Linked DNA regions of Homo sapiens. The protein of the gene in region 1 purifies or fractionates together with the protein of each later gene. This does not show direct contact. Each region holds a gene or a part of one and is shown in the gene's direction. Other genes may lie near its edges. The genes, in order: ZBTB34, KLHL24 and ZNF496.

Region 1 (3,649 bases):
AATATAATTGTTAGATCTGGTTTTGTTATGTTTCTGTCAGAGGATGGAGCCGGGGCTATATATACTTAAGTAGTTCTGAGCAGTCTGGCGCTGCAGATTTTAGGCCACAGGAAGGAAACCTGTTGTAGGTGTGCCGCAGCTGTGAGCGCTAGTAGAAGGTGATTCCTTTTGATGTGTCCATCACCCTTTCACTCTTGTTGTCTAAAATAACTACTGTTTAAAAACACTGTCTTGGCAGAGCGCGGTGGCTCACGCCTGTTATCTCAGCACTTTGGGAGGCCGTGGCAGGCAGATCACTTGAGGTCAGGAGTTCGAGACCAGCCTGGCTAACATGGTGAAACCCCATCTCTACTGAAAATACAAAAACTAGCTGGGTGTGGTGGTGCACGCCTGTAGTCCAGCTACTCAGGAGGCTGAGGCAGGAGGATCACTTGAACCCAGGAGGCAGATGTTGCAGTGAGCCAAGATCATGCCATTGCACTCCGGACGACAGAGCGAGACTCCATCTGTAAAAATAAAATAAAAATAAATAAAATAAAATATTGTCTAAAATAACTCTTCACTGGTCGGGTGTGGCAGCTCACACTTGCAATCCTAGCACTTTGGGAAGCTGAGGTGGGAGGATCACGAGCTCAGGAGTTCAAGACCAGCCTGGGCAACATAATGAGACCTCATCTCTAATAAAAAATAGTAATAATAGGCCGGTGTGGTGACTCTTGCCTGTAATCCCAGGACTTTGGGAGGCCGAGGGGAGCAGATCACCTGAGGTCAGGAGTTCGAGACCAGCCTGGACAACATGGTGAAATCCCGTCTCTTCTAAAAATACAAAAATTAACTGGGCATGGTAGCGCATGCCTGTAATCCCAGCTATTCAGGAGGCTGAGGCATGAGAATTGCTTGAACCTAGGAGGCGGAGGTTTCAGTGAGCCGAGATCACGCCACTGCACTCCAGCCTGTGCAACAGAGCAAGATTCTGTCTCAAAAAAAAAAAAAAGTAATAATAACTCTTCACTGAAGGAGACTGAGCATGGTAAGTCTCAGCCAAAGCAACCCAACCCAAAAGAGATATAAAGGTGTACAGAGCTGAAGGGCAAACACACAAATCAAGACAATAATACTGAAAAGGGTTTAGCTCCATTTATTGTATCCAGTGTGCTACAGAGTTGAAAAATACCAATCAGAAATACACAAGTAAGGTAGAACATTTTTAGATGAATTTAGTTTTGTTTTTGTTTTGTTTTTTTTTTTTTTTTAGAAGGAGTCTCACTCTGTCCGCTAGGCTGGGATGCAGTGGTGTGCTCTCGGCTCACTGCAACCTCTGCCTTCTGAGGTCAAGCGATTCCCCTGCTGCAGCCTCCCAAGTAGCTGGAATTACAGGTGCACAACACCACACCAGGCTAATTTTTGTATTTTTAGTACAGATGGGGTTTTACCATGTTGGCCAGGTTGGTTTCAAACTCCTGACCTCAAGTGATCCGCCTCCCTCAGCCTCCCAAAGTGCTGGGATTATAGGTGTAAGCCACTGCGCCTGGCCTGAATTTAGTTATTTTTCACAAAGTACTTCAAACCCTCAAAAGTACTTGAAATGGGGAAATATTTTTCCTAAAAGGAGACCAATTTCTCAGTCAGAGCCAAAATAGTCCTACTATGTGTAAAATATTTTACTTTTGATCAAGATGAATATTAGGCAATTATGACATTAGGCTAATTGATCATTAGTTTATTTGGCTTTAGGTGAATTAACCAAAACATGAAAGACTAAAACAAGGGGAAGAATGCTTCAGGTAGATTTTAGGAGGTATGATAGCCACAATGGTATTGTTGTTGTAAGCTTGTGTTTATGCCACTTGTACTTAGTGAGGAGTCATTGGTGAATGATGCAAACTCTCTCTCTCCGCAGAGTACGCTTCATGTCAGTAGAAATGGACAGCAGCAGTTTTATTCAGTTTGATGTGCCCGAGTACAGCAGCACCGTTCTGAGCCAGCTAAACGAACTCCGCCTGCAGGGGAAACTATGTGACATCATTGTACACATTCAGGGTCAGCCATTCCGAGCCCACAAAGCAGTCCTTGCTGCCAGCTCCCCATATTTCCGGGACCATTCAGCGTTAAGTACCATGAGTGGCTTGTCAATATCAGTGATTAAAAATCCCAATGTGTTTGAGCAGTTGCTTTCTTTTTGTTACACTGGAAGAATGTCCTTGCAGCTGAAGGATGTTGTCAGTTTTCTGACTGCAGCCAGCTTTCTTCAGATGCAGTGTGTCATTGACAAGTGCACGCAGATCCTAGAGAGCATCCATTCCAAAATCAGCGTTGGAGATGTTGACTCTGTTACCGTCGGTGCTGAAGAGAATCCCGAGAGTCGAAACGGAGTGAAAGACAGCAGCTTCTTTGCCAACCCAGTGGAGATCTCTCCTCCATATTGCTCTCAGGGACGGCAGCCCACCGCAAGCAGTGACCTCCGGATGGAGACGACCCCCAGCAAAGCTTTGCGCAGCCGCTTACAGGAGGAGGGGCACTCAGACCGCGGGAGCAGTGGGAGCGTTTCTGAATATGAGATTCAGATAGAGGGAGACCATGAGCAAGGAGACCTATTGGTGAGGGAGAGCCAGATCACCGAGGTGAAAGTGAAGATGGAGAAGTCCGACCGGCCCAGCTGTTCCGACAGCTCCTCCCTGGGTGACGATGGGTACCACACCGAGATGGTTGATGGGGAACAAGTTGTGGCAGTGAATGTGGGCTCCTATGGTTCTGTGCTCCAGCACGCATACTCCTATTCCCAAGCAGCCTCACAGCCAACCAATGTATCAGAAGCTTTTGGAAGTTTGAGTAATTCCAGCCCATCCAGGTCCATGCTGAGCTGTTTCCGAGGAGGGCGTGCCCGCCAGAAGCGGGCTTTGTCTGTCCACCTGCACAGTGACCTGCAGGGCCTGGTGCAGGGCTCTGACAGTGAAGCCATGATGAACAACCCCGGGTATGAGAGCAGTCCCCGGGAGAGGAGTGCGAGAGGGCATTGGTACCCGTACAATGAGAGGTTGATCTGTATTTACTGTGGAAAGTCCTTCAACCAGAAAGGAAGCCTTGATAGGCACATGCGACTCCATATGGGAATCACCCCCTTTGTGTGCAAGTTCTGTGGGAAGAAGTACACACGGAAGGACCAACTGGAGTACCACATCCGGGGCCATACAGATGATAAACCATTCCGCTGTGAGATCTGCGGGAAGTGCTTTCCATTCCAAGGTACCCTCAACCAGCACTTGCGGAAAAACCACCCAGGCGTTGCTGAAGTCAGGAGTCGCATTGAGTCCCCCGAGAGAACAGATGTGTACGTGGAACAGAAACTAGAAAATGACGCATCGGCCTCAGAGATGGGCCTAGATTCCCGGATGGAAATTCACACAGTGTCTGATGCTCCCGATTAAGATGGTAAAGAAGTGCACCCAAACAAAGCACATTAATCAATGCATATTTGTGATTTGCTTTGTTGTAATCTTTGGTTTTCCCAACCATCTGGAAATCTCTTGGTCTCTTGGCAGTTTTTCTAAAGTTTCTGGATGGAACACTTCGTTGTGTTTATCCTTTCCCCTGCCCTCCCTCCCCGAAGGAGCTCAAAGCATGAAGGGCAACGCATCCAGGGAAAACACAG
Region 2 (3,749 bases), on another chromosome or scaffold:
ACACACACACACACACACACACACACACACACACATACACACACGATGGATTATCTGATGGGTTTGATTATATGGAGTTGTATTGAAAGCATTTTATCGTTTTAGAAAAACTAAGAGGACATTGTGATAGATCCATAATAAAATAAGCAAAGAAAGAGGATAATTATTAAAACTCCAAGGAAAACCAAAAGCCATACAAGATGGGAAATTGTATACGATTTGTCTCAACAATGAATAATAAATACATGGTCTCATTAGCGTAAACATTAATGATTTAACCAGATTATGAGAAGGATAGCTTCCTTAATAGGAAATAGTCATACATTATTTGGAAATATATAAATACCAGAAGAAATAGCTCAAATAATTGAATAAGAGATGGAAAAGAGGCCTAAAAAGTATGTTTAAAAGGCCTGTATATAGGCCTTCCATATTATTTCCGCCTCTGGTCATCAGAACACAACGCCTAATTTAATAGAGGCATGACGGTATTCATGACATGTAGAAGATAGAGATTTTTAAATTTGGTATCAGAAACCAAAAACTAGTTAAATGGTTGCAATCATCCTTTAAAAGAATACCTGCAGGCGGGGCGCAGTGGCTCATGCCTGTAATCCTAGCACTGTGGGAGGCCAAGGCAGGCGGATCACTTGAGGCCAGAAGTTCGAGACCAGCCTGGCTAACACAGCCTCTACTAAAAATACAAAACATTACCTGGGCGTGGTGGCGGGCACCTGTAGTCTCAGCTACTCGGGAGGCTAAGGCGGGAGAATCGCCTGAACCCGGGAGGCAGAGGTTGCAGTGGGCCGAGATTGCGCCACTGCACTCCACCCTGAGTGGCAGAGCGAAACTCTGTCTCAAAACGAAACAAAACAAAAAGCTTGCAGACACAAAACGACAACACAATGTCCTTTAGGAACTCCATCTACCTTGGAAAACAGGGATTTGTGACAGCTTTGGTCGACGTGCATGTGCGTTTAAAATAAAAAGGTAACCTAGGATTTGATACCAGGGACAGTAACAGCTTTATCAAAAAAAAAGAGGTGGTTTTCCTTGCTCCTTCTAAGGACTGGGGTTTTAGTCTCGTCCACCCTGCAGGCCCTCAGGCCTGATTTCCGATTGTCTATCAAAGGGTCAAATAAAAAGCTCTCTAAGCTTCGACCCAAGCTTTAAAGTCGAAGGGCTGATCGCGGGCTTTTTCCTTGGGACGTGGCAGGGGCCTTTGAGGGAAGGAAAGAAACGACTCTGGCTTCTCACTCGGCTCCTTACACAAGAGGCATTTTTTTAACTGTCTCTGCTTAAAACAAGGTGTTTTTGAGTCAGCAGCCCTTTGGGTGGGTCTCGTCCTCTTGGGCACCCGACACCCACCCCACGGCGGGAGCCCCAGGTGGCCCCGGAGGCCACCGGGAAGCGTGAACTACATCTCCCAGGGTTCCCCGGGGCGGAGGACGCCCACCCGGATTGGCCAGGGTTCGCTGACGCTCAGTGTTTTGGCCCGGACGGTCACATGTTTCCTTTGTTGTGAGCTGCGGCAGAGACTGGTGGCTGGAGGAGACGCCGGCGCTGGAGAGTGCGCTGCGCCGCCCGCCGCTGAGGGACCGCGGGGTTAGCCACTGCTGGCTGCTTCCAGTGTTCGCCGAGAGGTACCGGGGGTGACAGCTCCGGGACCGGCCGAAAGGCGAGGAACCGGTCAGAGTCTGAGTCCTCGGGGGCGGAGGGGCGACGGCGGTCCTGACCACCGGGGTGTCTGCGGGAGGGCAGCCAGCGGCGGCCGGCCTCTCAGAGCCAGACTGGCGGTCTGCGGAGAGGCTGCAGCTGGGCTACAGGGCCCCTTTCTGAGGCGAGGGGCCTCCAGGGTTCACCTGGGGGGTCTTCCTCCCCCGCTTGGTAGCTACAGCCCTGAGGGAGGGCGCGCGCGCCTCCTGGCACTACGGCCCGGAACCGCGGCGCGGCTGGTGCGGCCTGGCTAGGGCGGGGTGGTTGCCGGGACTGGGGGTAGCCGCAGGTGCGGTAGGCTAGTCGCCGCGGGGCCGGGCGCCGCCGGGGGAGGCGGCTGGGCAGACGGGTGCTGCTTGTTGCCGATGGGCTGCGAACGGGGCGCTGCTTTTTATTTCAGGAAGCCCGGGGGAGTGCGACCGCCTCAAATCCAGCCTTCTTGTTTGGTGGGACGACCGTCGGTTCTGTCCGGGAGGAATGACGGGGTCAAGGTGGGGTCCCCAGGGCCGCGGGCCCGTGAAGCCCCATTAAAGCGATTGCGAAATGCACTCGGCACTGTCACCTGACCGTTACCCCCGCCCCCGTCCCCTGCGAGCCTTTGTTTACCACGATCGCGACACCCGGCCCGCTGCGGCCGTCCCCGGGGAGCCGGGGCGGGCGGGGGAGCGGGCGTTCCGCCGGCGCAGTCCCCGCCTAACCTCCCCACCTTCTTACCACTCCAGGACTCAGTTTCTTAATTTAGTTCCTAATGGACCCGCCCTCAAGTTCTGGACACCCCGGGTGAAGACTGTTAACGCGGCGGGGATTGGGCGCCTGCGGCAGCTTGTGGGCGGTACCCGAGGGAGAGTTCGAGTTTTTATTGGCGAGTTTTTATTGTCACTAGGTGGGCCTGCCCTGGGCCATTCTTCCCGCCCCCTTGAAGGTGATCTGGAGGACGCGCGGGAGCGCGCGCTGTCGCTGCTTTTGCAGCTGCGGCCCGAGTGGAGCCGGGTGGCGCGGGTGCGGGAGGCGCGCGCTCCCGCCCCTGCTGCGGGCGGCTGGTAGCCTCGGTGGCCGCCGCCGCCGCTGCTGCTGCCTGATCCTGCAGGCAGTTCTGGGCACGCAGAGATCGGCTACCGTGGCCTGCCCTCCGAGGACCGGAAAATTAACACCCTTTAACTAGTGTCGCGTTATCTGCCGGGTGGTTCGCAGGAAGTCCTGCGAACACGTTGTTGCCAGTTCTGTAAACGTGTTTAGATAGCTAAATATAGATCACAGTGCCACATCTTAGGGGGCCCCACGGTCACCCCTGAGGCAGTGGCTGTTCACAATTGATTTTAGTGGATTTTAATGATTAATCACTTGCTCTTGTGGGCAGCTTTTCAAAAATCACGTCTTTGTATTTGCAGCTACAGACTGGGTCCACCAGCTAAGAGGTTGGTTTTTATTAGGGTTGTAAAATAGATTTAAAATCTGCTTGTTGTTGGCTGAGATTTAAAAGCAGATTTCTACTATTTAAAAAAGATAGTTTGAAGATACTCCCCTAAAAAGTAAAGATTCTTCCATACTCGGCTCGGATGAGTTGTTTTCCTTGTTTGAGGGATTCTAGGTCACACACTTCTATGTTTTAATTCCCGTGGTAATTCAAAATGTTTGAGAAGTGGGTTGCGACTGTGTCGTTTTAAAATTGTACATTAAGCTGACGGTAATAAAATCTTCAAGACCAATCATTTTTAGCCATAGTGTGTTGAAAATGGTTTTTCTAATCGCTTGAGTTAATAGGGTATTTGCGTTTTGTCAGATTTTCTTCTGCAGATATAGGAATTCACTCAAGACTTAATACACTTGTTTTGTTTTTGAGACAGGGTCTCACATTCTGTCACCCAGGCTGGAGTGGAGTGGTCTCACTCCGTCACCCAGGCCATCTCAGCTCACTGCAATCTCCGCCTCCCGAGTTCAATCGATTCTCCTGCCTTAGTTTCCCGAGTAGCTGGGATGACAGGCGCCCGCCACCACGCCCGGCTAGTTTTTGTATGTTTAGTAGGGACGGGGTT
Region 3 (3,649 bases), on another chromosome or scaffold:
AGTGAGCCAAGATCATGCCATTGCACTCCAGCCTGGGCAGCAAGAGCGAAACCCCATCTCAAAAAAAAAAAAAAAAAATCTAGCAGGTCATTTCCATGGGATTTTAAGGCTCAGCAATAACCTCTGGCTCAGTTCTCTGTTCTCCAGGCCCAGCAGGCTACTGGCCCTGCTCTTTGGAACTCAGAAGGAAATGACTTCACCTCCTGAGCCTGTACTCTCTGGTCCCATGATGACAGTGGCAGTCCTGTAACCTCTGAGCCACCTTTGGAGTCATTCTTCCCTTTTCTTGAAGGATAGTACATATTCATAGCCAGATAGATCTATCGGCCAGTTTGTAGAATCCCAGAAGTCCTAGCCTTCTTTTATTTCATCCCATCTCTTTTCCTTTCAGTTCCAGCTGGCAGTGTTTCTGCTGGTATATAATACTCAGAAACCCTGCCCTCCATGCAGTCCACAGGGTTGCAGGCCGTCAGACGAGGGTGTCCTCCATAGACCTTCCTGGATAACCTCATCTCTGTTCCTGGCTTCTGTTGAGATGGTTGATTGGATCCGTGAATCATACCCAGAATCTCTTTAACAAATGATGAGCCAGCCACACTCTTGGTGTCTCTCCAGTGCACGCTTTCTTATTTTTTGCCGTATGGATAGACAGAATTTTCCAAATCTTGAAGTCATGGTTCCTTTTTGCTACAACAATTCCTTCTTCAGTTTATCTCTCTCATCTCACGTTTCACTATAAGCGGCAAAAAACTAGTCTTTGCCTTTGACACTTTGCTTCGATACCTCCTCAGCTCAGTATCCGAGTTCCTTACTTACAATTTCTGTTTCCACAGAACAGTTGAATATGGTTTGGCCAAATTCTTTGCCACTTTATAATTGGAGGATCTCCTTTTCTCCAATTTCCTATAACGTCCGTATTTCTACCAGCCACTTCCTCAAGGCTTTTTAAACATGCACTTCAGAACTCTCCTGGCCTCTCCCCATGACCTAGTTCTAAAATCACTTCGACAGTTTTTGGTCTTTGTTTTAGCTGCACCCTACTTCCTGGTGCCAAAGTCTATGTTAGTCTACTGTGGCTACCATAACAAGGTACCACAGGCTGGGTGACTTAAACAACAGAAACTTACTTTCTTACAATTCCAGAAGCAACAAGTCCAGAATCAAGGCTTCAGCAGAGCTGGTGTCTTCCAAGGCCTTTCTCGTCTTGGAGACGGCTCCCATCTTGCTGTGTCCTCACAGGGTCCTTCCCTCTGTTGAAGTCTGCCTCCAGTCTCCTCCTCTTAGAAGACCAGTGATTTTGGATTGGCCCCACCATCTGACTTCATTTTGACTTAATTACTTCTTGAAAGACCCTATCTCCAAGTAATCACATTCTGAGGCTCTATGGGTTAGGGCTTCATCATGTAAATTTTCAGGGGGACACAATTTCGCCCATAACATGCACTGTCTGCTCTCATAATTCCATCTCCTCGCCCAGTTAACAAGTAAGAGATCTTAGCGGTCCACCTTGTCACTTTGTTTTCTTCTTCCACCCAAGTCCATTAACAGAAGTCAACTGCTGATCAAGTACCTTGTCATCGGCAGCCTGGTAAAAGTTACACCTTGCTCTTGTCTCCACCCCATGAGGTCCACAAAGTACATCATACACATGACCTCACCTGCCCCACCAGCAGCTTAGAGCAACGGGCTGCCACTGTCATTCTCACCTTGTAGACGAGATGACCCAAGCTCAGAGAAGCTGTCTGGCTGGAACGAGGTTCCTGCAGCTCGAAAACCAAGAGTCGAGATAAGCGTCAAACATAGCCTCTCGGCGGGCGCAGTGGCTCACACCTGTAATCCCAGCACTTTGGGAGGCTGAGGCAGGTGGATCACCTGAGATGGGTGGCTCGCTTGAGCCCAGGAGTTTGAGACCAGCCTGGGCAACATAATGTGACCCCATCTGTACAAAAAATTAAAAACACATGCACACACACAAACACAATCTCTGTCTTCATCTGATGATTTCCCTCCTATACTACGTGGGTTCTTGGCAGACTCAGTACCCACTCCCAGACTCATGTTCCCCCGACCCCCTTGTGACTGAGGGACAAATGCCCCCTCCGCTTCCACCATTGCCCTTTATCTCTCTGCTCTCCATAGCCTCTGTGTCTTCCTGCCCTGCTTCTGTTTGTCCAACTTCTCCTGTCCTGAGCTGCTCTGACTAGCCAGGGCTCTCCTCCCCACAGTCATGAAGCCCAGACTAACCATGTTCCTACTCTTATCTGGGAGGGCCTGGTTCACTCCCCCCAAGTTCTAGATTTGAGTTCTACATTTCACAGCAGTGAGGAAACAGGCCACCTGTATGGTGGGCTCTGCTCCATAAGCCGGGACCTCAGGCCGGGCTCTGCACTGTCCACCCAGCCCCGCCCCGTGGTTCCACCTTCCCAACATCACAGACTCAGGATGCAGGAAGTCCAGAGCAGCTTTATCCATCACCACCTGTGGCCTCAGAAATGCGGTGCTACTGGGAGCCGGGGAGCTGTGGGGGACCCAGGACTCTGGGCAGTCTGGGACTGTTGAGCAGCCTAGCAAGGCTGAGTAGCATTTCAGCCCTCCTTCCTGGCACAGATCACCTTAGTTTATGTGTAAACATGGCAACCAATAGGTCATCGGGTTGCGTCCAGGAGCAAATAGGAATGTGCATGTCAAGTCTAGCACAGTCCCTGGAGCATGCAAGTGCCCAGCACATGATATGTGTAGGTTGTAGAGTCTTCCTCTCTCAAGTCCTTTCACTATCCTGATAGAGCTTTCCCCCATGCCTTGTTAAGTGCATGATCTGTAAATGGTCAAGGCTTTACCCAGATAAATACAGACTCCTAGAGCTTGGGGGGATGGGGTGGTCTCCGTGGGTAGAGAACAAAAGGGTTGGGGGTGGAGATAAGGGAAAATGGCTGGGAAGAGGGAGAGCAAGGTGCCCAGCATGCTCTGGACACAGCGGGGCCCATGCTGAAGATTTCTTCCTCACAGGCTACACCAGTGGCCCCTGCAGGGCTGGCCAGGCCGCCCCGGTCACCGAGGACCATTGTAAAAACACGGGTTTGTAAACTCCAAGCTGAGTGTTCCTCCGCCGCGGTCATAGGGGCTGGGATGTGGCCTGTGCAGCGTCGCTGACCTGCATGTTGCCTTCCTGTAGCTGGCGGCAACCCGCGATCTCTAGAGAACAGCCTGGATGAAGAAGTGACCATCGAGATCGTTCTCTCCAGCTCTGGGGACGAGGACTCCCAGCATGGCCCGTACTGCACAGAAGAGCTGGGGAGCCCCACAGAGAAGCAGCGCAGCCTCCCCGCCTCCCACCGGAGCAGCACCGAGGCCGGAGGCGAGGTGCAGACCTCCAAGAAGTCCTACGTGTGTCCGAACTGTGGGAAAATCTTCCGCTGGAGGGTCAACTTCATCCGGCATCTGCGGAGCCGCAGGGAGCAGGAGAAGCCGCACGAGTGCTCGGTGTGCGGGGAGCTGTTCAGCGACAGCGAGGACCTGGATGGGCACCTAGAGAGCCACGAGGCCCAGAAGCCTTACCGGTGTGGTGCCTGCGGGAAGAGCTTCCGCCTGAACTCCCACCTGCTCTCCCACCGGCGGATACACCTGCAGCCGGACAGACTCCAGCCGGTGG

The links.
Region 2: the proteins of ZBTB34 (region 1) and KLHL24 purify together in Homo sapiens (affinity purification with mass spectrometry; one large-scale study listed by BioGRID and IntAct). This does not show direct contact.
Region 3: the proteins of ZBTB34 (region 1) and ZNF496 purify together in Homo sapiens (affinity purification with mass spectrometry; one large-scale study listed by BioGRID and IntAct). This does not show direct contact.

Annotation. Positions count from the first base shown.
Region 1 is NC_000009.12:126,877,490-126,881,138, forward strand, and holds part of ZBTB34 (zinc finger and BTB domain-containing protein 34), read left to right. Parts: intron 1-1,900; coding exon of another isoform or gene 1,901-1,910; coding exon 1,911-3,425; 3' UTR 3,426-3,649. UniProt on the Homo sapiens protein: May be a transcriptional repressor.
Region 2 is NC_000003.12:183,634,105-183,637,853, forward strand, and holds the start of KLHL24 (kelch-like protein 24), read left to right. Parts: upstream 1-1,518; 5' UTR 1,519-1,689; exon of another isoform or gene 1,690-2,207; intron 2,208-2,430; exon of another isoform or gene 2,431-2,505; intron 2,506-3,749. UniProt on the Homo sapiens protein: Necessary to maintain the balance between intermediate filament stability and degradation, a process that is essential for skin integrity.
Region 3 is NC_000001.11:247,300,800-247,304,448, reverse strand, and holds part of ZNF496 (zinc finger protein 496), read left to right. Parts: intron 1-3,172; coding exon 3,173-3,649. UniProt on the Homo sapiens protein: DNA-binding transcription factor that can both act as an activator and a repressor.